3 separate regions of the Homo sapiens genome follow, and regions 1 and 2 are each linked to region 3. Evidence: fine-mapped expression QTL. A gene starts in region 3. Each other region holds a variant in brackets. All regions are shown on one strand. Distances are between the middles of the regions.

What was found.
Region 1: its variant is fine-mapped to the expression of PDE3A in skeletal muscle (GTEx, PIP above 0.99).
Region 2: its variant is fine-mapped to the expression of PDE3A in testis (GTEx, PIP above 0.99).

The regions. Positions count from the first base shown.
Region 1 is chr12:20,316,467-20,325,051 of GRCh38, reverse strand. LOC105369688 (a long non-coding RNA gene) reads left to right here. Exons shown (of 3, transcript XR_931419.3): 3 at 4,190-4,236. Among named protein-coding and RNA genes, the nearest start is that of PDE3A, 48 kb to the left of the region's middle. The variant G/T (reference allele first, on the strand shown) is at 4,228.
Region 2 is chr12:20,548,364-20,556,363 of GRCh38, reverse strand. The region is part of intron 1 of PDE3A (phosphodiesterase 3A); the gene reads right to left. It also overlaps the pseudogene LOC728688. Among named protein-coding and RNA genes, the nearest start is that of SLCO1C1, 140 kb to the left of the region's middle. RefSeq lists a silencer at 4,735-5,029. The variant C/G (reference allele first, on the strand shown) is at 3,551.
Region 3 is chr12:20,363,645-20,372,113 of GRCh38, reverse strand. It overlaps PDE3A (phosphodiesterase 3A), which reads right to left and starts at 3,577. Exons shown (of 16, transcript NM_000921.5): 1 at 1,870-3,577. The coding sequence starts at 2,829. PDE3A-AS1 (PDE3A antisense RNA 1) reads left to right here and starts at 1,858. Exons shown (of 2, transcript NR_186033.1): 1 at 1,858-2,273. RefSeq lists a silencer at 2,245-2,539.

The sequences.
Region 1 (8,585 bases), 47 kb after region 3:
AAACATTAATGTACAAATAACAATAAAAATTCTTCCTACAAATGAAATAATGGGCTCAGATTATTTTACAGGTGAGTTCTATCAAACACGCAAAAATAATATATTTTGAAACAATGCCTTACAAAGAAGAGAAAAAGAGACATCCCCAAGTTAATTGACGAGGGTAGTGTAATGTTGGCATGAAAATGAAGTCAGGAATAATAGACTATTAAAGACCACCTTCACTCCTGAGCATAAATGCAAAAGTCCTAAGTAGATAGCAAACCAACTTTACTAATTGTTAAGCTTTCTCTTTAAAATCAGGAATAAGTCATCAATGTGCCCTATAATCATTTCTACTTTACTATATGGGAGACCTTATCTAATATAACAAAACAACAAAAATAAAGCCTAAGAATTGGGAATGAAAAAAATTATTATTATTTGAAGATTAGATAATTAGCTCTATAAACAACCTCAATTTTCTACAGATTATTAGAATAATTAAGAGTAGAATAAGATTGCCAGATCTAAGGATAATATACTAAAGCCAACTGAATTTCTGTATATCCATAAATAATAATTACAAAATTTAATTTAAACAAGTGTATTCTTTACAATAGGAACCAAAAATACACGGTAGTCAGAAATAAATAGAAATAGAAATTTTAAAAAACAAGAAATTAAGATCTTTATAAATTGAAACATATACCATGTTTATGAATAGAAAGACTAAAAAAAAATGTCATTATCCCCAAATTGGTTAGTATATTCAATAGAATTCTGATCAAATTTCCAAAAGAGTTTTTCTTGGAATTTGACAAGCTATTTCCAAAACATATGCACAAGAACGAAGAATCTAGAATAGCTAAAATATTCATAAGGAAGAAGATGAAGGAGGAGGAAGAAGAAAGTGTCTTATTTTCTCATTATGAAAAAAAATTTAATAAAGAAAATGTAATACTGGTATATAAAAATAAACCAGTGGAACCAAGTAGAAGGCCGGCCCAGAACCAGATGTATGTGTGTATGGCTATTTGACATATATGACAGAAATAGAATTCTTGGTCAGTTAGGAAAGAATAAACTATTCACAAATAGTCTAGGGCAATTTTCTGTCTATAAAAGATAAATAAAACTTGAACCTTGCTGAACCTTGCTTCTCTCTCTTTCTTTCTCCCTCTCTCATACACACACACAGACAAACAAATTATTTCTCTATACCTTAAAACTTACTTGTGAAAAATTTAAAAAGTTTAATGGCAGCACAGGAGAACACAGAGTGGGAAAAATTTCTTAAATAATGCATGTAACACTCAAGCAATAAAGAAAAGGATTCATATATTCAAATACAGTAAAATGAAGAACTTCCAATTGAAAGACAACATAAAAAAGTAAAGATAAACTGCACATTAGTTCAGGAAACAATATTTTAAAAATACATGACTAAGAAAATCTTAAAATCTTATCTCCAGAATATGCAAAGAATTCCGATAAAGCAATATGTAAGAGCAAACAATTCATTATTAAAAAGGGAAAATATGAGAGGCATTTCACAAAAGAAGAAATAGGAGTAGGCAATATCCATAGGAAGAGATGCTTAATATTATTAATAGTTAAGAAATACAGATAAAAACAAAATAAAGTTCTCATTTCATATCCATGATATGGAGAAAAGTTTCGATGATTAATAACAAATATTGGAAAGCATATAATAGAACAAGAACATCTAGAGTACTTGTGAGAATGTAAATTGCTACAACTTGTCTGGAAAACAATTAGGCACTGCTACAATAAAGTTAAGGTTATGAGTACACTACAACTCACCAATTCTATTTCCAGGAACATATCACAGAGAACTATCTCTACATGCATATCTGGAGACACACACAAAAATGTCAATAGAGGCATGATTTGAAGTAGACAAAAACTGGAAATCATAGATGGGAGACTAGATAAAGAAATCATCTTAAATTCATATAGTTGTACATAATATTGGTTTGAGAATGAACTGGAGTATCAACATGGATTAAACTCAAAAATAATATTCAGGAAAATGTCACCGAAGTATACATAAAAGCATAATTTATTATCAGCATATAAAAGTAAAAAGGAGATAAAACCAAATAGTGTATTTTTTAGGATGCACATATGTGATAAAACCACAAAAAAGAATTAACGGAATGATGAACACAAGTTTTAAAATACTGACTCCCAAAAAGTGAAGACAGGAATGAATGGTAGTATACTTAAGTTGCAGCTCATTTTCTACTTTTTAAGCCAGGTAGAAAGCATATGCCAATTTGTTTTATTGTTCTTTCTTAAATTGTACATATATGCCAAGTCTCCTCTTATAAACATTTCATAATAAAACAGTTAAGTGTTGTCATTTTAATTTTGTATCTTGAGTAAAGAAAAAAGAATTTGAGCTTGTTTTTATCTATATGGTGTCAAAAGTAGTCAACCTCCCTGTATTCCTGGTGTTTACCAGTGTCTCGGAGTGGTAGCCCCACTGTGATCTCTGGTCTTCCCATTGTTAGCAATTGATCTGACACAATCCCTGAGAATAATATAGTATTATTATATACCACTATATTTTTTCACTACTGCATGTCAAAGACTGAAGTTCTAGAACATTATGGAACACTCACTGTCACCTCATCTTAGACTTAACAAACCCAAATTCCTCACATTTCCTGAAGTTATTTTATTTTATTTTATTTTGAGAGACTAGCTGGGGCCGGACGCGGTGGCTCACGCCTGTAATCCCAGCACTTTGGGAGGCTGAGGAGGGTGAATCACAATGTCAGCAGATCGAGACCATCCTGGCTAACACAGTGAAACCCCGTCTCTACTAAAAATACAAAAAATTAGCCGGGCGTGGTGGCGGGCACCTGTAGTCCCGCTACTCGGGAGGCTGAGGCAGGAGAATGGTGTGAACCCGGGAGGCGGAGCTTGCAGTGAGCCGAGATCGCGCCATTGCACTCCAGCCTGGGCGACAGAGCGAGACTCCGTCTCAAAACAATAAAAAAAAAAAAAAAAAAAAAGAGACTAGCTGGAGCGCAGAGGCATGATCATAGCTCACTGAAGCCTACAGCTCTTGGACTCAAGCAATCCTCCCACCTCAGCCTCTTGAATAGAACTATAGAACTTCCTCAAGTTTTATTACTTGAAACCTACTCTTAAATATTACCCTCTGCATCATTCAGGGTTCTAACTAACCTGATTTTTTTTTTACTAAAATATGCTGATGTTTATTAACCATAGCAAGATACCATCCAAAAATATTATAACTACATATTTATAAAAGATGCTATACAAACTATATTTCAGAGACCCAGAAGAAATTTTACAAATGGTATCAATTTCAAATAGGCCCTGGTAAGCTGGCAAGTGGTGTGCATTTATAGTCCCAGATATTAGGGAGGCTGAGGCCAGAGGATCACTTGAGCCCAGGAGGTGGAGACCAGCCTGGTCAAAAGAACAAGACCTCTGTCTCTGAAAAAAAAAAAAAAAAAAAAAAAAAAATAAAGGCCCTGGTATAAAAAGGGAAATTAGAAAATGAATAACTAAATAACTATAAATAAATTTCAAATAGGTCCTGGGTAAGCTAGCAAAGTGGTGTGCATTTCTAGTCCCAGATATTAGGGAGGTTGAGGCCAGACGATCACTTGAGCCAGGAGTTGGAGGTCAGCCTGGTCAAAAGAGCGAGACGTCTGTCTCTTTAAAAATAAAAAAAAAAAAAAGCCCTGGGATAAAAAGGGAAATTAGAAAATAATAAATAACTAAATAACTATAAATAAACATCTACCAAAAAGGCCCTGGTATAAAAAGGAAAATTAGAAAATAATAAATAACTAAATAACTATAAATAAACATCTACCAAAGTGAAAGACTATTAAACACGGTTTACACATTTAATAGACCTTATAGATTTCTACCCTAATGGATTTGCTGTGACAACCTAAATAGCTTGTAATCCACAATCACTGAAGCAGCAATAGCTCTTTGCAGTTATATTTTGAAAACAGGCATATCCACTATGGCTAGAAAAAAACTGTTATTTAAAAGAGTGAAAGGAAAGCCTAAGAGTAATTCATGTAAGTTAGACAAAGAATGGAACATTTTAATGCTAGTTAAAAACAGATACAGCTTCAGTTAGCAAGTGAATAAAAGGTCTTTTTTCTTTCTTTCTTATTCTTGATCACAGGAAAACTGACCTGACGAGGAGATGGAATCACTGACACC[G/T]GATGTCTCTCTTAGCAAGAGCAAGGAATATCAGAGGGACCTTTCTAATTCTGATATCTCTTGTCATGTGGTAGCTACTGGACACTGCCCGTCTCAGACAGTTCCTGATTATTGCCCTATAGCACTGGTTCCAAACGACTGTTCCTTCCCTAGGGTCAGATGCAGATACAATTACCTGGAATCAATTCAAGATAAAAGAGTCAGCTTTTGAAATGGGTCAGAAGAAAGAATCACTGCCAATGAGTGAAATCTGGTTGAAAGGCTAAAACAAGAACGATTCCCAGTTTGAAGCTTATTATTATTTCCAATTTTAGGTTGAGAGTTACAGGGATATTGTAAAATTGTAATTTTGAATATTGTAAATAAACAACTTAAAAGTGTTGCCAAAGTAGCTGTGGTAATCATTTCCCATAATTTTCTATTAAGGGTTGAAAATGCCAGATCAGGTGACCGCTTACTGAGGATATTTTCCCTTGGGATGCTATTGGTGTGCAAATGTATGTATGTATCTGTGTCTATGGTGGCATTTAGTTGTTCTTTTGCTGGATTGACTCTTCTATTTGCATTTAAAAAAATCAAGTAGGACGGGTGCAGTCGCTCATGCCTGTAATCCCAGCACTTTGGGAGGCCGAAGCAGGCGGATCACCTGAGGTTGGGAGTTCGAGACCAGCCTGACCAACATGGAGAAACCCCATCTCTACTGAAAATACAAAATTAGCCGGGTGTGGTGGCACATGCCTGTAATCCCAGCTACTCGGGATGCTGAGGCAGGAGAATTGCTTCAACCTGGGAGGCAGAGGTTGCAGTGAGCCAAGATCGTGCCATTGCACTCCAGCCTGGGCAACAAGACGGAAACTCCATCTCAAAGGAAAAAAAAATAATCGAGTAAATCTTATTTAGCCATGAACATTATATAATTAAGTCCTCAGTCCTCAGTTCTAATAGCAATGACTATGAAGAATTATTAATATTTAACAAGTGTTTCTTATCCCTGAATGGGCTGTGCTGCTTCAAGTTCCTGAGGCATTTTACTCTTTATCCTCTCTATCCGGAATACAACTTTACCTTCTTTTTTGTCCTTCACCTTCAACTTGCTACATGGCAGGAATCTGCTAAATGTGCTATATGCCTTATCCCATTTAATCTCACAGCAACACTCTGAGGTAAATTCACCCTCCACTTGATATTTGAGGAAACGAAAGCTTAGAGGGGTCAGCTTCACACATAGCTATAATAATAGACTGTGGCACTGCTCCTCAAAGCCGCCTCTATCTGAGTTGCCTGGATTAAAGCCGTGGCAGTGGAAATTGAGAGCAAGCAGTTCAGACTTCAAAGACATTTCTCTGTTTCAGTTGACAGGATTCAGTGATGTTTGAATCTGGGGTTGAGGGGTAGGGAGTAATCAAGGATAACTGGAGGCTTCTGATATGGTTTTACACCGATAACAATAATAAGAGAGCAAATAAGAGCTCTTGAAGCCAACTTGATGGGAAAGATAGAGAGGTCAGTTTGGACAGACTGAGATCTAGTTCCTCGAGGGGTCCACTTAAGAGTTAAACAAGATCGTACTGTGATTCACAAAGAAAATATAATGGAGACATGCCGGAGGAGTTCAGGGTGTAGGAGGAAAAAAATTCAGAGAAAAAAAATTCCTATTGGACCTTCAAATAGTGCAACTACATAATGCATATATAATATATACATATATCTACGTAATAATAGAAAATTTAGTCATCTTAAAGAAACATGCCTAGTTTTCTAGTCAAAACACAAAAAAGTTAACATTATAACACATACAAAACTTCTTGATCTATTTAGCTTACTTAATGAGTTGCTGTAAAGTTTTATAAAAATCCAATACAGCCCGAATACACAAAACTTGATTTAGAAAGCAAGTGTTATATTGATTTAAGGCTGGAGTAAAATATAATTTGATTATAAAAAGTTTGTTCCATAATTTGGGTTGATTTTACATTGTGAAGTCACTAACAACTCTCATTTGATCCAGAAATTTTGAGAGTGCTGTACCAACTATTTAAGATGATAAATCAGAGAGGACTTAAAGAGTTCCAGTCAGTTTTTGTTTCTCAGCCTTAATTTCCTATCTTATTGAATTTGCTTGCTGGTATTTATTTTTTAGGATGGCATACTTGTTGTCTTTAGTGAGGACAAATTCTACAAGAGTTTCTATGAAGTTTTAGATAAAGGAAATGTCCTATTGTTTTTTCTCTCACACACTCAAAAAGAGAGAGTAAGAAAGAAAAAAGGAAAATATAAAAGAAAAAATAAAATATGACCAAATTTAAGCTCTGGATAAACTTTCAAAAACTACAAGTTATTAAATATGGTTATTAAATTAAATAACAATGTTAAAACTTCTTGCTTACGTCACTATGCCATATGTGCTAATCTCTTGTAAGTTCCCAGCTAGACATCAATTTTTAAAAGGAGTTTTTTGTTTTTTGTTTTTGTTTTTAAAAAAGGATGGAAAATTCTTAACTGGGCTAGGTAATAATCTGCTTGCAAATTGCTCATTTATGTGACCGAAGGGAAAGCAGAACTCACATTAAGTATTGCATGCTAATATGCTTCCTCCAGCTTATCCCACAGACTTTCACTCAAATTGCTCATATTTCTCCACGGAAATGTCACAGTACGTCTGTGCAAGCTAGTTTTTATGGATTTCTATGAAAAGCTTCAGAAACATAGCCAGCAAATAGTCTCCCTCTCAGGCTCACTCACTACCTTCCTTTCAGAACTCTGGCTGTGTCTTAGTCTGTTTTGTGCTGCTATAACAAAAATACCTGAGACTGGATAATTTATAAAGAACAGAAATTTACTTCTTACAGTTCTGGAGGTTGGAAAGTCCAATCAAGGCACCACAGATTCAGCTGTCTGATATGGGCTGCTCTCTTCTTCTAAGATGGTGCCTTGATGCTGTGTCTTTAGGATGGGAGGAACGCCGTGGCTTCACATGGTAGAAGAGATGAAAGGGCAAAGACGGGACAAACTTTCTCTGTCAAGCCCTTTTATAAGGCCATTAATCCATTCATGAGAGCAGACCCTCATGACGTCATCTCTCAAAAGGATCTACTTCCTAACACTGTTGCATTGGGGATTAAGTTCCCAACACATGAATTTTGGAGAACACAGTCAGACCACAGCAGGCAGTACAAAAAACTCTCATCACAGGCTTTTGAATATCCAACTGCTGCCTAAACTATAGTGACTGATTGACTACAGCAAAAGATATCAGGTGGTTTTGACCCTGAAATATCTAAGTAATCTAAAAATGCTTAGCTTTCTGTTGTATACAGAGTGACTTGAATTTAAAATAAATCTCTGCCCTCTAATGGTAATAGTATTTACATAAAACATATTTAAAATAACAATTGAAATCCATAATCTGCCCATAAAATACATGGCCAGATTCTTATATCTACACAAATTCTGAAGTTCATTAGCACAGTAAGTTTGTTTCTTAGAGTACAAGTGACATTATTCATTTTTAATTTTTGTGGGTACATAGTAGGCGTATATATTTATGGCGTACATGAGATGTTTTGCTACAGGCATGCAATGCGTAATAATCACATCATGGAGAATGGGGTATCCATTCCCTCAAGCATTTATCATTTGTATTACAAACAATCTAATTATACCCTTTTAGTTATTTTGAAAAGTACAATTAAGATATTATTGACTATAATCAACCTGTTGTGCTCTCAAATAGTAGGGCTTAATCATTCTATTTTTTTGACATTAGAGTATTTAAAGATAACATTTTGCACACGAGGAAAGCAAGCCAATGAAAGGCAATAGTTTACCCTTAATCCAGTAGCTTGTAAGGTGACAAAAGCTTGAAATTTACATCAGGTTCACAGCCTCCCAGCTCAATAATCTTTCTCATGGCATGGTTTCATCATTAATGCTGAATACATGAGAGGATAAGACTATGACCACGTGCATTGAGGACAACAGTGGAGTTCGCTTGGGCCCCCCAATTGTTATTTGTCTAGGAAAACTGTTTCCAACAGAATGGAAAATTTGAAAAAACAATACATATATATTCATATCTATCTATCCATCTCTCTCTATATATATCACGTAAACTTCTGATAGAATAATCTTGGAAAGAAAAGACACCCCACAGTAGTGCTGGTTTAGAGGAAGAGAATTAACAAAGGCCAGAAATATTACATATTAAGTAAAGAATTTTCAGTGACTAGGTCGGGCGCGGTGGCTCACGCCTGTAATCCCAGCACTTTGGGAGGCCGAGGCGGGCAGATCACGAGGTCAGGAGATTGACACCATCCTGGCTAACAAGGTGAAACCCCGTCTCTACTAAAAATACAAAA
Region 2 (8,000 bases), 180 kb before region 3:
TATTATTAAGCCTTTAGCTTTTTAAGAAAATATTCTGGGTAAATGACTACTGCAGTTAAATCTACTGCCGCAAATGATAAGAACCAGAAGGCCAAATCAGTTCAATAATTTTTAATCCTCCTTCAAAACTATAAAAATCTTGAGAGTTCTAAAGAGTAAAATTATTAAATATTTAATATGAAATATGCCCACATAGTCACAAAACGTAGATTTTTAATAATAACCTATAAAATATCATCACGTTATTCCTATGGTGGTAATAGCCCTGAGCTACCTTGCTTACAAAGAAGAATATTTACTTATTGAAAATAACATTTAACATTAAGAATATTAAGGAAATAAAAGATATTGACTCAGAGAAATGAAACTCCATTCATCTGTCAGTAATCTTATTAGTCATCAGTACCAGCTGAAGAAGTATTTACAGCTAATAAGCTAGCACACCAATAAGATGGACTATAAATGAATTTATGTACGTTATTAGCTTTTCTGTATAGCAGCAATGACTCCTAAGTAGACTTAACAACAAACAACTGTTCACAATAGCAACAAAAATAATATGCCTTTGAATATTATCAAGAAATGTTTGATAACCATATACAGAAAATGGTAAAAGTTTACTGAAGACATACAGTGCTACTGGTAAAGAAGACTTAATTCTATAAACTATTGAGTGCTCAATTCTACTCAAACAAATTTAACTAGATTTCAGGTTTAACTAGATTTCAATCAAAAGCTAACAGTATTTTTAATTTTGAAAGAATATAAATTTCATTGGAGAGTATAAACATATATAATCAGTTATGTCAGATGAATAAGTGTAGCGATACAACGCAGAATATGAGAACTATACCTCATGATGTTATACAGTGTGCTGAAGTTTGCTAAGAGGGTAGATTTTCGGTGATTTCACCAAACACAAAGTTAAAACTATGAGAGACGATCGATGTTAATTTACTTGACCTTAGTAATTACTTTACATTGTAAATATACATCAAAATATTATGTTGTACACCTCAAGTATATACAATAAAAAAGAATCCATTAGAGGCCGGGGCGCAGTGGCTTATGCCTGTAATCCTAGTATTTAGGGAAGCCAAGGCGGGCGGATTTCCTGTGGTGAGGAGTTCGAGACCAGACGGGTCAACCCTGTCTCTACTAAAAGTACAAAAATTAGCCAGGCGTGGTAGTGTGCACCTGTAGCCCCAGCTACTTGGGAGGTTGAGGCGGGGGAATTGCTTGAACCTGGGAGGCAGAGGTTGCAGTGACCCAAGATCGCACGCCACTGCACTCCAGCCTGGGAGACAAAGTGAGACTCCATCTCAAAAGAAAGGAATCCATTAGAAAATGTTACAAGTGATGAAAATACCTTTCTGGTTATTAAGATATATTATAAAACTTAACCAAATTTGGGGATAATGGTTTAGCATTAAAAATGCAAATGAATGAAATAATTTGGAATAAATATACGTATGTGTGCTAACAAAATATAAGCAAGAAAACATCAAAAATATTTTGTATTTGATGAATTATTCAACTAATGAAAAAAAGGAGTTCATGACCAGCCTGGCCAACATGGTGAAACCCCTTCTCTACTAAAAATACAAAAATTAGGTGGGCGTGGTGGGGCACGCCTATAATCCCAGCTACTTGGGAGGTTGAGGCAGGAGAATCGCTTGAACCTGAAAGGCCAAGATTGCAGTGAGCTGAGATCGCGCTGCTGCACTCCAGCCTGAATGACAGAGTGACACCCTGTCTCACAAAAAAAGAAAAAAAAAAGAAAGAAAAAGAAAAATAGACTTTTGAGGGTAAAAAATAATTAAAGCCTAACCTTATAATAAATGGTAATATTAATTATAGATTTAAAAGACAAATTTTTAAAAAGACAAAACTGTAAATATAAAATAGAATAAAATCCAGGTAAATACTCAACCTATCTTGGGAAATAAAAAAAAAATTAAATAAATCTAAATCTTTTTTTATTTTTTTTATTTTTTTTTTTTTATCTGTGAAAAACATTTATTCTGAGAATCTAAAATCTGGACAAAGTACTGGACTTTAGAAAAAGCCTACACAAAATTGTCTCATTCTTCCCTAATACATTAATAATCTAAGAATAAGGAGGTGAAAAAAAACCCTTTAAAAATAACATTGCTCCAGTTTGTCTGCAGGTATGTGATTTAAAATATCCCTGTTTTATTGAGGTATAGGCTGCAAACTTTGGTAAAATTAGAAAAATTAACAAACCCTTTCAAAAAAAAAATACAAAAACAAAAACAACCAAACCCTAACGTTATATCTTTCTTGGTACATATACAGTAACTACAAAAAAATTCATTTAGAAAATGTGTTCATTAAGAGAAAAAAAAATTAAAAAAAAAACCCTCTTGTAAGTTCTCACTTGCTGAGTTAAAAAAATTGAATGTAAATGATCTATAAGGCTCAAACGGTTCCCAAGCACCCATCCGGTGTCAGGAAGAACTGGATGACCGCAGTTTCTAGAATCTGGTTGACATTTTCAATAATTCAGTGCTAACAACAAAGACTGTCGTCTTTAGAAAGAAGGAACGAATCAAAGGCACTTGCACGTGACTTCATGTGCTGGCGTCCGTCCGTGGCCGCCTTCGTCGGACAGCGTCAGCCACACGCCTGGCCCCACGTGGAGCGGAGTCCCCTTGAGGCCATTTCTGCGTGGCCCCAACTCCCTGCTCTCGTGGGCAGAGGACTTTTCACGCGGATCTCAGACGCTAAGCAGTCTGGTGGGGGATGGCTTTGAGGCAAAGGTTTGAACTAGGCCCGAGATGTTTCCTCTTTTCCTTGCAACAACTTCAACAGACAGCTGAGCCACGCCATGCCACGGGCTGCCACGGGCCACCACGGGGAACCATGTCACTGGACTTTAGATGACAAAATGCTGTCAGGAAGATGCTTGCTCTGACCTTGGGGGCCAGAACCCGAGAGAAGGACTGATCCTGTCGCCTTCTTAAAGAGTTGGTGGCAGCAACTTCTGAGAACTTGACACCAGAAACATCAACAGCCTCCACACCACGTAGTTTCTGATTCCATCTTTAAAAAATCTTGTGTTGTTTTGTCGAGAAATTGCAGGCTTTTATGTTTTCAAAGAACTAAACACAATACTGAGAAGTCCAACTTTTAGCCAGAATACATAAATTCCTGAAAATGTATAGATTTGAAAAATAAAAATAAAAAAAAAAAAAGGAAGACAAACCTTTTTAGGGAACGGAGGAAACACTACCTGTTTAAGTTAAGCCCACTAAGAACAAAATCAGTGCCGATGAACGAGCCCTCCGACACGTTTTCAGCAAAACGCCTGTCGAGAAGTGCTTGGAGATCACCGGCCATTGCCGTAGCCGGGGAAGAGCTGGTTGAGGACGGTCTGCAGAGGCTGGTTCACCTGCATGGCATAGCTGCGGCCCAGGTCGTAGCGGCAGGCAGGGCAGCTGAACACCTGTGCCCGAAAGGATCTGTCCAGGCAGTCCTTGCACACGTTGTGCTGGCACACGGTCGTGATGGGCCGGAACACCAGCTC[C/G]TGACAGCAGATACACTGGAACGTCTCCTCCACTTTACTCAGGAACAACTGGAACGGGCTGCCGCTCGCCGGCCGGTCCTTGAGTGACGCCAGGACCTCATTCCACAGCTTGGCGTTGCTCTTGTCCTCTCTGATGAGGCTGCTCTGCTGGGCCGTGAGACTGTAGGGCTCCACCTTGGTTTTCTTGGATGTCCGGCGCGGGGACCCGGCCCTGCTCGGGCCACCTCCTGCCGACTTCCGCTTCCACTTGCCCTTGCCCGTCCTGGGGGACGCGAAGCCCCCCTCCTGCTGCTCCTCCTCCTCCCTCTTGCTGTTCTCCTTCTCTCGCTCTCGGTTGGCCAGGGCTTCCAGGTAGCCTTCTGGATACTGCATGGTCAGCCCCAGCTTCTTGATCCGGTCCTTCCCCTCCTTCGTCCAAGGGCCGGGCTCATCATCGTCCCTCCGCAGAAGGTAGCGCCACACGAGAAACCCGGACTTCCCCTTCTCGGGCCAGTATTTCACAACCTTGTAGATGCCATCGTAGCGGTTGCCCTCAGCGGGGGCGTACTTGCTATTCTTGCCACCCTTGACATTGCGCACCACCCTGACCGGCTTCCCCGACCGCCAGTCCTTGGCCTCGGCCCCTTCTTGGTCATTGATGGGAGCAAAGCAGTTGAGAGCCAGCGCCCTGTTGGTGTTGGTGAGTTTCTGATCACAAGACTGTTCCGCGGTCCTCTTGTTGCCGGAAAGCTCTCGACCACCACTACCCGTGTATGTGAAAAAATTCCCATGGTCCACGTCATCCTCGTAGCCCCCCGCCAGGACTAGGGAGTACGCTCCGTCGTTGCTCCGGCCATGGATGCCAGCCACGTGGGGCCGATGGACACCCGACTCGCTGACCTGGACTCGGAACCGCCACATGGTGCCCACGGGGATCCCCGGGATGGGTCCGTAGTGGTTGGACGGGATGATGGTACATTCCTTGGTGCGGCCCACACAGGCCATGCCCTTGTCCCAGTCCCGCTGTGAGGACGATGTGGCCGAGGCCATCTTCGCCTTCTTCTTGCTCTCTCTCAGCCGCTCTCCCGCCAGTACCACCTCGCTGGCATCATTCCGGCACTCAGGGCAGTACCACTCGTCCTCGCTGGGAACACTGCTGAGGGGCGGGTCCAGGCAGTAGATGTGGAAGGCCATGTCGCACTCATCGCACATGAGCTGCTTGTCGGGGTCCTGCCGGCCCCCGCACAGGTGGCAGGCGCAGACCCGCTCGGGGGTCGCGTAACTAGTTAGCATGCCAGAGTCTCGTTCGTTATCGGAATTAACCAGACAAATCGCTCCACCAACTAAGAACGGCCATGCACCACCACCCACGGAATCGAGAAAGAGCTATCAATCTGTCAATCCTGTCCGTAAATCTTTTTTTAAAGACTTTTTTTTTTTATTACAAAAGAGGACAAATTGATCTGGCTATATAAAACTTTAGAGTATTTGCACAAATGTCACATTGGTAAAATATCTGTAGTAAACTTAGGTAAAGAATAATATCTTCAAGATATCAAGGGTTCTTACAAATTTGAAAGAATCCCAACCCTAGTAAAAAACTGAGGGAAGAGTGAGAACAACTTACAAAATAAATAGATCTATGGAAAGACATTTAACTTTATTGGAAGTAAAAGAAATTCAATATAAACAATGACAAGATACTACTATTGCCTATTATATTTGCAAATTAATAATGTTGAATATTTGGAAAACAGGGAGTAAACTAAGCATATATATTGCTACTATATAACAAATATATATTTATACACATTGTATATATATATTTACACACATATAAAATATATATAATACATATATTATTAAAAATTCATACCCTTTGAACCAGTAAACTAAGATCTAAAAATCCAGTAACTATAATGTGCTACTAATTGTTTATCCAACAAAAGGGAAATTACTCAATAGATTACGGTATACAAAATGATACCATAGAGCAATTAAAATTTGGCTTCCAAGGCCTTTATAAAAAAGAACATGTGAAATGTTCACAGTATAATAGGTAAAAAACATAACAAAGTAATTTAATGAATTTTAAGCTACTCATTTTTAACAGACATAGTCAATTGTTTTAAGCCTTGGAATTATCATGATGATTTAATTGTAGTTTGGCTAGCACACAATTTTGGGTACACTGACCCAGATAATCATTATATAAAATTGAATGCTTACATAGTAGATATTTCTTTAATGCTTTAATTTTTTAATTTATGGATTTACTGGCATTATATCATCTCAAAAATATTTATTGATACTAAAGATGATTATAATATGGTTCACAAGCAATAATTAACTAATGAAATAAGTAGTATGATTTAGAAACATTAGTTGTTCACTAGAACTATCAAAAACAATTCTTGACACATTTCAAACATTGACAATACCTTACATTAAAATAGGAAGATGAGCTCATTATTTTTGGCAACTTTAAAGTGGCAATAAATTGAGCAATAGGCTTCTAGTGAAATGATTTATCAAAATCTTCTGGAAGATTTACAAAATGCTGACTATTAACACTGTTATCCTCCTTGCTAATGAGTTTAAACTAACAGGATCAAAATAAGGTGGTAAATTCTCCTATCACAACTAAAAGAGGTAAATAAATCTTACAAACACAAGTTATAATCCACAATATATTGATTTAAGAGAGAATATTTCATGATGACAGTAAGTCAAAAAGGAAACATTTTTGTAGGACCAGAATTAAAATGAGGAAAGCATGTAATTCACTGCCTTCTGCCATTAATTATCTTAACGATGACGATTTTAGTCAAAGAACAAAAACACTCAAAATGTAGACTAATTTGGGTCATCATTTACTCCAGAAGATAAGATCAATTTGGTAATTTGCAAATCAGAGCTTGTAAGATGCATTTCAAAAAATTCACTATCTAAATTTGACTTTTTCTTTTAAAGCATAAAACAGTAAAATTTGCCAAGTGTGTTATGTATCAGAGAGTTATTTCCTAGCATTATATAACAAACTGAGAAATATGCAGGGCAAAGAAATTCTTTTCCATTCTTATTTATATATTAATATCATCTTTATATTATATTTGAAAGGTATGAGCTGACCAAGAATGTGGTAGTATTTTAAAATGTACACTATGGCTACTTTTTTCAAAGTAATAAAAAATGTTACAGAAATCTACATCCTATGTGAAATATATTCAAAAAGAATGAACTCTGCATATGACAAATGAGATACTGTAATGTTCTACAGTCAATAAGAGCACCAAAGGAAGTAAACAGGATATTTCTCCTTTTGGATTTGAAGAATACAAAGTGTTTATCATTAAACTTCCATTTCTAATTAAAATAATCTGAGCCAAAATTTAGCATTTATTATTTCAGTGTATTTTCTTTTTTTTTTTTTTAATGCAAAGAAAGAGGCAATGATGGGGGTAGGGACTGCATAGTGTCAGAGCTTTATTCCTTCCCACGATTACAGCATTCTGGCCACTAGATGGGGCATGGGGTGGAGAGTGGGAGATGTAAGGATAAACTTCATATTAGCGCATGACAGCATATGAATTTTTATCCTATTTGTATAAAAAATATTTTACTGTCATAAAAACATAGTTCTCAGATAAAGGATGAAAGACTACAATAAGCAGCATATTGTCAGAATCCATTAAAAAAAACTACTCATAGTGTGATAAACTGACTTAATATTACAGATTATTTAAAATAAAATGAGGCATTTAGCTACTGGTAAGTACTCCTATTAAACAGAACCATAGGGATAAATGTTTCACAAAGACATCTCCCTAGCCCTTTCTTGATGTGTGATTACAACAAATAAAAAAAAATGGTTATTCACAATAAATAGTAAAGAAGACAGCTTGCACATTGAGGTCAATGAATTTCAGAATTAAGTGCAAAATGATGTTGATATTATTTCAAAGAGAAAGTCAAAACATCCTTTCAATTAAACAGATAAGATTAGTGTTAAGTTGCAGATGACCAAAGTAATCATTTGACATTATCATAGTAGCAGATAAAAGACGTTAATGGGCCACAGACAATGAGGAAAAGAAATAGAAACTGTGGAATTTTCCTTTTTGCAAAATAATTCATTTTGACTAAACTTTCAAGAGAAATGAATAGCAGCATGCTACTTAAGCAATTCTGGGAAAAGAGAAACTTTATTAAGATGATATGATACTCTTTTTGGAGAAGGAATGCTAATGATTTTAAGATTAGTTACATAAAGTTGCTAGAAACATAAAACAGAGAGGGAGAGATTGAGACTGGAAAAATAAATAAAAGTAAGTTTAAATATATTCTAGTTGATAAGAGTACATAACTACTTAATTCAGGGAGAAAAAAAATGTTTGTCTCTCACCATCTATAAAAAATACCCTCTGGCTAGTTTATGATTACTCCTCTGGGTAATGACATTTTAATAAGC
Region 3 (8,469 bases):
ATGCTGCTGGTTAATTTACCTAACCACCTTCTTATCTTCTATCCACCCTTAATTTCTTAACTTATAAATGTTAATATAAAATTTTAAAAAATAATTCCACAGGGTAAATGATATCAATTTGGAATCAAGTTGTGATTAAATCCCAGATTTTCCTTAGAAATTATGGTTGTGAATTTTGCAATAGTAACATCCTATTTCCCTATAAGTTAATGAATAGTGTATTCTGAACATACTTAAAGCGGTGGTGTTTTCATTTAAGACATTCTCTCCCATAACTGTGAAAAGAAATTAAAATGGTTAGTTTACCCTCAAATAGATAACTTACTCCATTTTAACAATTTCCAAATTTTTACCAAAACTATCAGTCAGTGGCCTGTTTTCCCCTCCACTCTTAGAGTAAGCTTAAAGACAAGAAACATTTGTTTTATCGAAACAAAAAGCAAATAACTACATTTGCTTTAAAATAAACAGACTATGATGCTGTCATCTACTCTGCTCAATAATGTCAAACAGCCATAGATCTGTGTAATCAACTCCATTTCAGAAACCAACTAGCCACCCACACCATATGGTGACTGCTATTTCTTAGAAATACCCAAATGATTATCCACAGAATAACCTAAAAAGAAAAAGCTTACTTTATCTTAGGATATTCTCTTGCTCCCTAAAGTTGTCCTAATAGTACCACAGGTAGGCATTAATTTAAAGGGAAAAATGTAAATTTCCACTTGCTGTATCCAACCAGCTCCTCCTCCCCATCAAGTGTCAAATCCACTTCAAATAGAGAGGTGAACAAATCTGCTTCAACTAGGGAGGCATACCCTTCGGTATGCTTTTTTAGACACCGTATGCATTTAAAATTGGGATTTGTTCCTTTATGCCCTTTATAGCAACTGTTCTATAGTTTTAAATCACTTAATGATAATAAGGAGACTCATCCCCAAAAGTGACTAAAGTTTTATTTACAACTTTATAATCCCAGGTTCCTCCTCCTCCCACGTTGTGGGAAGATATACATCTCCAGCAATCTTAGAAATGGCCTCCCGAATTAGTATTTCCTGTAAAATCTGCATAAATCCATTTGAATTTATAAATATCCACTTAAGTATGCACATACTAAAGAGAACTGTTTTGTTTTTAGTTGACACTAAAACGCAGTTGACAATTTTGAACAATTCCAAAGTTCAGACATATTATTCCCCAAGTTGAAGTTTGTGATACAAAACACACTAGCATGTAATAATGTATGCCCCTAAATTATATTTAAAAACAAATTGGGCACCATCAGCTGCAGTCTCTCCAAATAAAACTTACTGCAAAACCAGAAAATGTGTATCAATTCCTCACCTTCAAGCACAGCTTGCTTTGCTCTAGAATCTTTTTACTGGTTTTCATAAATGTTTAATATCATTTCATTAAAAAGATTTTACTTTTTAAAAAGTAGAAATCTAGTAAAATCTATGTGTTAAAAAAATCACTCATTGCTAAAATCTAAACTTAATTCTAAAATTTCTGCTAAGGAAGGAAAGCGTAAGAGTACTGAAAAGAGTAGGCAAGCCATACACCAGGTGTAGCAGATCTAAAAAGTTGGCCCAGCTGTGGAAGACCCTACACATGCCATCTAGTTTTGTTAATTGTGTTTCAGTCGTTCAGGTTATAAAACTACTGTGTGAAAGAGAGGGCAAAAAAACAAAAAAAAAAAAACAAAAAAAACAAAAAAAAAACCTGCTAGTTTCTTAATTCTGAAGTTAGACCAGTTTTCTAGGCTATCTTCCCTTTAGTTCCCAGCGCTCGGATTCTCTCCACTCTGCGCCGGTTGCCAAGTGTTTCAAGTTTCCAAGAGCCGAGAGAGGAGTTGCCAGTGCTTACCTGTTCCCTCGGTATACAGGGCAGGGAGGTCCTCCGATGGGACTTGCTGCTGCAGCCGGACATCTCGGCGGACACGACGGAGCTGGACCGCCTCCTCCTCTTAAACACCGGGATATCTTCCTTGGTCCCAGCAATCAGCTGGGACCCCAAATGCTCCCTTGGAGCCGCCTCCGCGGACTGCGGCAAGATTTGTTCCACGTACCTGGCCAAGAGGATCCCCAGCACGCCGGCCAGGTACGCCAGGTAAGGTCTCCAGGCGACCTTGAACCTCTCTAAGGAAATGAGGGACACGGTCCTGACCGCGCTAGTCAAGGCGATCATGAGGACGCCCAGCCTCAGCCTCAGCACCAGCCATGTCGCGGCGGCCAAGCAGCTGAGCACCACCCCCGCGGCGGGGAGTGAGAGTAAGTGATCCTCCCCGACGCCCAGCCCAATCTGGACGAGCGCTTCCCCCCCGCAGCAGGCGGCCAGCAGCGCGACAGCCAGAGGCAGGCGCACCCCGGCGCGCAGGAGGTACAAGCCCATCCAGAAGAAGGCACACAGGAGACTGAAGAGCAGCGCCGAGGGCTGCAGCCAGGGGCTGAGCCGCGCACCGCCCCCGGGAGCACCTCCCCGAGGCCCCGGGAAGACGCCCCCTTCTGCTCCCGGGGCTGCTTCCTCCTCCTCCGCCGCCGCCGCCTCCTTACACTGCTCCAGGTCACAGCCGACCTCCCCGCGGACCAGCCTCACCAGCAGCGCCAGCAGAAAGGACAGGGAGCCCGCGCACAGCGCGGAGGAAAGTTTCCGAGAGCTCCGGAGCGGCTGCAGCACCAGGTCTCCCCAGCAGCCACGGCAGCCCGAGTCCCGCGGCGATGCGGGGTCCGCACGATGGTGGCAGTCCCGGCCCGCCGTGGGGGCTTGACTCACCCCACTGTGGACGGGCTTGTCCCTGACTCGTGCAGCGTCGCCGGGCACTGCCATGGTATAGGGTGCCCTCTTCACTGAATTCCCAGTGGCCCCCCGACGCCCCCGCCCCGACCCACGCGCGCGCGCGCACACACACACACACACACACGCACGCACGCTCTTCCCAATTCCACCCTCGGAATCCTTCTTCTCCCCAGGCCCACAATCCACTGAAAGTTTCAGCTTTCGAATAACTCCTGGAGAATGCTAGATGCTCCAATGAGACTTCTTCAAGTTAAAGGCTAGCACGCTCAAGTTGAAAACAAGCACGGGCAGAAACGATCAGGATTCCCCTTTTCTCTCTTTGAATATCTTTCACAGATTCTCTGCTCCACCCCCACCCCCGACTTATATCCTCCGGGGTCTCTTCCTACTTCAGGATTTCAAAAATTGCCCAATGCATCCCGCGCGCAGGAGCCGCTGACGCTGGAGGAGCCGGGGGCGCAGGGCGGGCTCCGGGCCATTCCGAGGCGCAGCTCGGCGCTGCGCTGCGCTGCAGCGCGCCGGGCCCGCGGCAGATGGAGGTCTCCCTTCTCCTCCTTCCTGCAGCTCTTTTTCTATCACTCTTTCTTTCTCCTCGGCCGATTCTCCCCGGCACGGCCCCAGGACGCGAATCGCCATTCCCTGGGGCAGAAAGCAAAGCCTCCCCCGCCTCTGTCAATCCAATTCATGGCAAAGGATGGAAAAAAAAAAATGGACAAGGGGCTGAGAAATAAGAAGTTGCTAAGTCCCGTCGGAGAGAGAGCCAGACCGAGAGACTAGCGGCAGCCGCAGAAGGGAGGGAGGGAGAAGGAGCGAGTAAGAGAGGAAGGGAGGGTGAGAAGAAAGGGAGGGTGAGAAGGGAGAAGGAGATTTGCTTTTTTTTTCCCTCCCCACTTCTATTTGATGCAAGGTTGGTGGTGATTTGCAGTTTTGCAAAGGGGAAACGAGTGGCGACGACTGCTTAAAATTGTATAAAACTGGCAACTGGAGTGATCGACAATTCCGCTTTCTTTCTTTAAGGCAACTCCCTAGGAAAGCTTTCTCAGCCGAGCTCCCGCCCCCTCCTGCGGAGGAGGCGCTACCCTCAGCTCGATTGCTCCTTTGCTGGGAAAGCGGCCGGTTCACCCTACAGGCTGGAGCAGGGGCTGCTGAGGCTGATCCACCGCGCAGCCCACCGCAGCCCCGGGGTGTGGGGGGCTGCGGCTAGCCCTGAGGCTGAGCTCCCTAGAACGTTGGAAGGAAAAAAAAAAAAAAAAGATTGTGTTTGCCTACTTGGCAGATGAGAGCCAACATACTTTCTACTGTCCCTGAAAATGACAGCCACTTCTACTGTCTGATTCAAAGATGTTCCCAAGTCAGGTACAACAGCAGTCCAATTTCAGGTGACAGTGTCATCCTTTGGTCGCTCCTGCTGGAAGGTCTGCTTTATGAGAACCCAAGCCTGGCCTGTTGGTTCAAATGATGGAAGAATCAGCCTTACCTAGACCACAATAGTATAAAAAGAAAGGAAGGAGAGGCAGCAGTCATTTAAATCCAGTGCATGAGTATTACACAATAGTTTTTGACTGTGGAAAGTAAAATTACATTGAGATTAAGTGACCGTATCCTCAAAAAAGGTTAACAAAGTTTAAAAGCCCAGATAGTTCATCAAAAAATAAAGAAAAATCTCAAGGGAGAGGTGAGGATAGGTGGGTTAACACTAGGAGAGATCTTAGAAGACTGTCTATGGCTGCAAAATACTACATCTTCGAGCAAAGCATATGAAAAAAATCAGGACCTTAGTTATTAATGAGTAAAGGTTCGTGTACTGCAGCAGTGTGATATTTGAGAAACTAAAAGAAAATTTTCAAGCTAACCTTTTTTTGGCAGATTATGAAAAAGAATTCAGTATCTGTTCAATGGACTTAAACTCTATTGATGTTCCCTGGGATCTAGTTGTCTTTTTAATATGATACTCCACTTTTAACATGGCTATCTTAGATGTCATTTGCCCTCACTAATAATAATCTTAATAATCCAATTTTGTCTTAATTATCTTGACATTCCAGGTTAAAGTGTATTTACAGCCTAGAGCATTTAGATAATTGATTCAATATGCCACTGTATTTTGTATGTAGACATGAAGCAATAAAAAAAGCCAAAAGGAGATCCTTGAGATAAAATTAATTTATGGGGACAGGGGGAGAAGATGACTTAAGTTTTAAACAGCTTCATGGGAAGCAGCCTGTTCTAGTAGAAGGCAGATATACTATAAAGGTATAGCTTCTCTCTGTCAGATGTCCAGAATTGTGCTACCACACAGGAGTATGAGTTGGGCAGCTAGTCAATGGCAGTGGGCACCATCTGTTTAATAATTAAGGAAACAGGAGCAGCAATGTCTTTGCCAAAGACAAATGAGCCCCCTAGCACGCACACATACTTTCATGAGTTTCCTTTTTAGACATATGATTCATATGCCAGATCCTACCTGGGACACATCGGAGTGAAAAACCTTGATTGGAAAATCATTCATATCTGTTGGCATCAAAAATAACATATTAAAATAATAAACCAAAAATCTGGCATATATCAAGGTTAAAAAGAAAAGCATAGTAAGGGAAATTTTAGAATATTTCAATTTTATCTGTCCCCTACCCCCACAATTATCTCAGTTCTTTAGAAAATTTAATATAATATTATCATAAAAACTGAACACTTAAGGTATGGGAAGCAGATGTTTTTTAAAAGTTGTAACAGGAAAAAATGGCATTTGCTAATGGCAGCAAAACAAGAATATTCTAAATCCATGTGTTAATAACATCCTGGAACTCTTCAATAAAATAAGGAGGCAATGTCCTGGCATCCAGGTTTCTTTAACAAATCATAATCAAAAAGTTATTTGTCCCATCAAAAGGAAAGAAGGTAGATTTTTCTCCCCATACCATCCAGAACCCAGAGGCAAGTGAACAAAGACAACAAAATGCTAATGTTAGAGAGATGCAGAAACCTGCAGGGCTATACTAACTGAAAGAAGCGACTAATAATGTACCTTTAACAGAGTATATTAAATGAAATAAGCTGCAATACATAAACTGGATAGGGAGCAATCACATATAAACACTGCCTCTTTTCTACAGATAGTGGTGAGTCCTAGTTCAAGAAAGTGACAACACAGCCAAAGAATAAGGAAAATGTTGTACGTGCAGAAAAATAGTAGAGCATGGACAACAGAAATAAAAATTTAAGTTTTACTTGATAAATCTTCCACTTAGTCAAATCTAGCAAACATGTTTTTACAGTTTTTTGGGAAAAGGATCTAACCCTTCACATTTGAGCTTTATTAAATATAGTTAAGCGTCAGGGGATTCTATTGTAAAATTCAGTAAGTTTACGTTCCGTAGTATGGGTTCAATCATTCTCTGCTACCTATCTGATTATTATATATTTATATCTAATAGGTACCTAAAACATAAGGTATCCAAAACAAAATTCTTAACTTACAATTCCCTTCCTACCTATCCCCTACCCACCCAAACTATATTTTCTCAATCTTGTTACATCCCAGTAAAGAACATAACCATCTACCTAGTTGCTCAGGCCCCAGAAGAGGGAACGGGTCTTGATTCTTTCCTTTGTTTATCTTGTTTTACTTTTAGTCGATTAGGAAATCCACTTGATCCTGTCTCTAAAATATATTCTAAATCCATTTACTTTTCACTGTCCCTCTTATAATAACCTGCCAAAGACCCATCATCTTCCTTGGCCAGGACAAGTGCAGTAACTAACTGATCTTGCCCTACTTATAATTCATTTTCTATATAGCAGAGTAACACTTTAAAAATATAAATTGAATTATGTCCCTCCCCTATTTAAAACTACCCAAAGGCTACCCATCGTACTTGCAGAATGCAGTCCTCATCACAGTCCTCATGACAGTCCTACAAGGACCTTCATGATCTTTCCAAGTAATTCTCTCTGACCTCTCCTCCTATTCCAATGCTCCTACTTCACTGGTGAAGTACTATTTATTAGAACTTTCTTCAATGACAAATAGACCCTCTGCTGTCCAACATGGTTGCCACTAACCACATGTGGCCATTGAATACTTGAACCATGGTTGGTGTCACTGAGGAGCTGAACTTTTGTATTTTATTTTAATTTAAATTTTAATACATTCACTTGGCTAGTGTCTAAAGGAATGGAGAATGCATCTCTAATACCTCAGGCCACCTTTGTGTTCTTCATACATGTGAAATGGGAAACCCTGTTCAGGGCCTTGGTATCCAGAGATTTTCACATAGCTGGCCCCTTGTGCTCCATCAAGTCTAACCTCAAATGTTACTTTATTTTAGAAAGGCTTTTTTTCCAAGAATCTTATCAAAAATTTTTGGACACCCCATGTACACATACACACTTTTTCTTTCACTATCATACTACCCTGTTTCATTGTATTTATAGCACTTATCACTATACAAAATGGTCTTGTTCGTTTATTTGTTTTCTCACTTATCATTTATCTCTGTTCACTAGGGTGTTAGTGCCATGTGAACAAGGACTCTGAATAGCTGTCTTGTTTGCTGTGTATCTCCAATTACCAGAATAGTGCCTGGCACATGGTGGAAGCTTGTCTTAGTCTGTTTACTGTTGCTATGAAAGAATACCTGAGATTGGGTAATGCGTCATCAGGTGATTTCATCATGTGAACATCACAGAGTATACTGACACAAACCAGATGTGTGACCTACTACACACCTCGGTTATATGGTATAGCCTATTGCCCCTAGGCTACAAACGTGTACAGCATGTTACTGTATTAAATACTCTAGGCAACTGTAACACAATGGTAAATCTTTGTGTATCTAAACATAGAAAGGGCACAAAGTACCATATTATAATCATATGGGACCACTGTGGTATATGTGGTTTGTCATTGACCAAAACATTGTTAGCAGTGCGGGCCTATATCAATACTTAAATTACTCATCTATTAGAGAAATAGGTAATTGTCAAAGTTTTGAAAACTTTGTATTGATTACCTGATGAAATGTCTACAATCCTTAGCAGTTTTCTGGTAGGCTTAGGGATAAAGCAATGTAAAGCTGCATTTCAGTAATATGTAAGCTGAGAAATTAGGAGATACCTAAATATGAGTGACTAAGATGTCATAGCTCACATCACGATTTATGACATAGTCTCCAACTGTGCCAATTAACAACAATAGGGGATTAACTTAAGATTTAAAAAAGTAAACATTTTGCCAACATGGACCTTATTAATACTTATTATTTCACATATAGTCAGGGAAAAAATGCAGAAACCTTGCATTTTTAGATGTATCATCTGCCTTTTTTTTTTTTAATGCTGCCACTTAAAATGCAGTGCCTGCCCAATAAATTGCTGATAAACAGTCAAAGGCTGAGCTCTTATTGACTTCATGAGCAAATAGTTCAGGTTTACAGCAGCTACTGATGTACAGGCCAGTCTAAAATGTTAGAAATTAAGGATGATTTGCATTTTTAAGCTAGAGTGTATTATTGAGAAAAACTATGAAGGTTGTTGATAGAAAGGAAAATATAAGTATAGCCTATTTCTTTGTTATATTTCAACACCTCTACATTTTAAAGTTAGTTTTACTTACCTGTAAGTGTTATAATAGCACCCAAACTGCTACTTTTTATATATGTGACAGAAGGA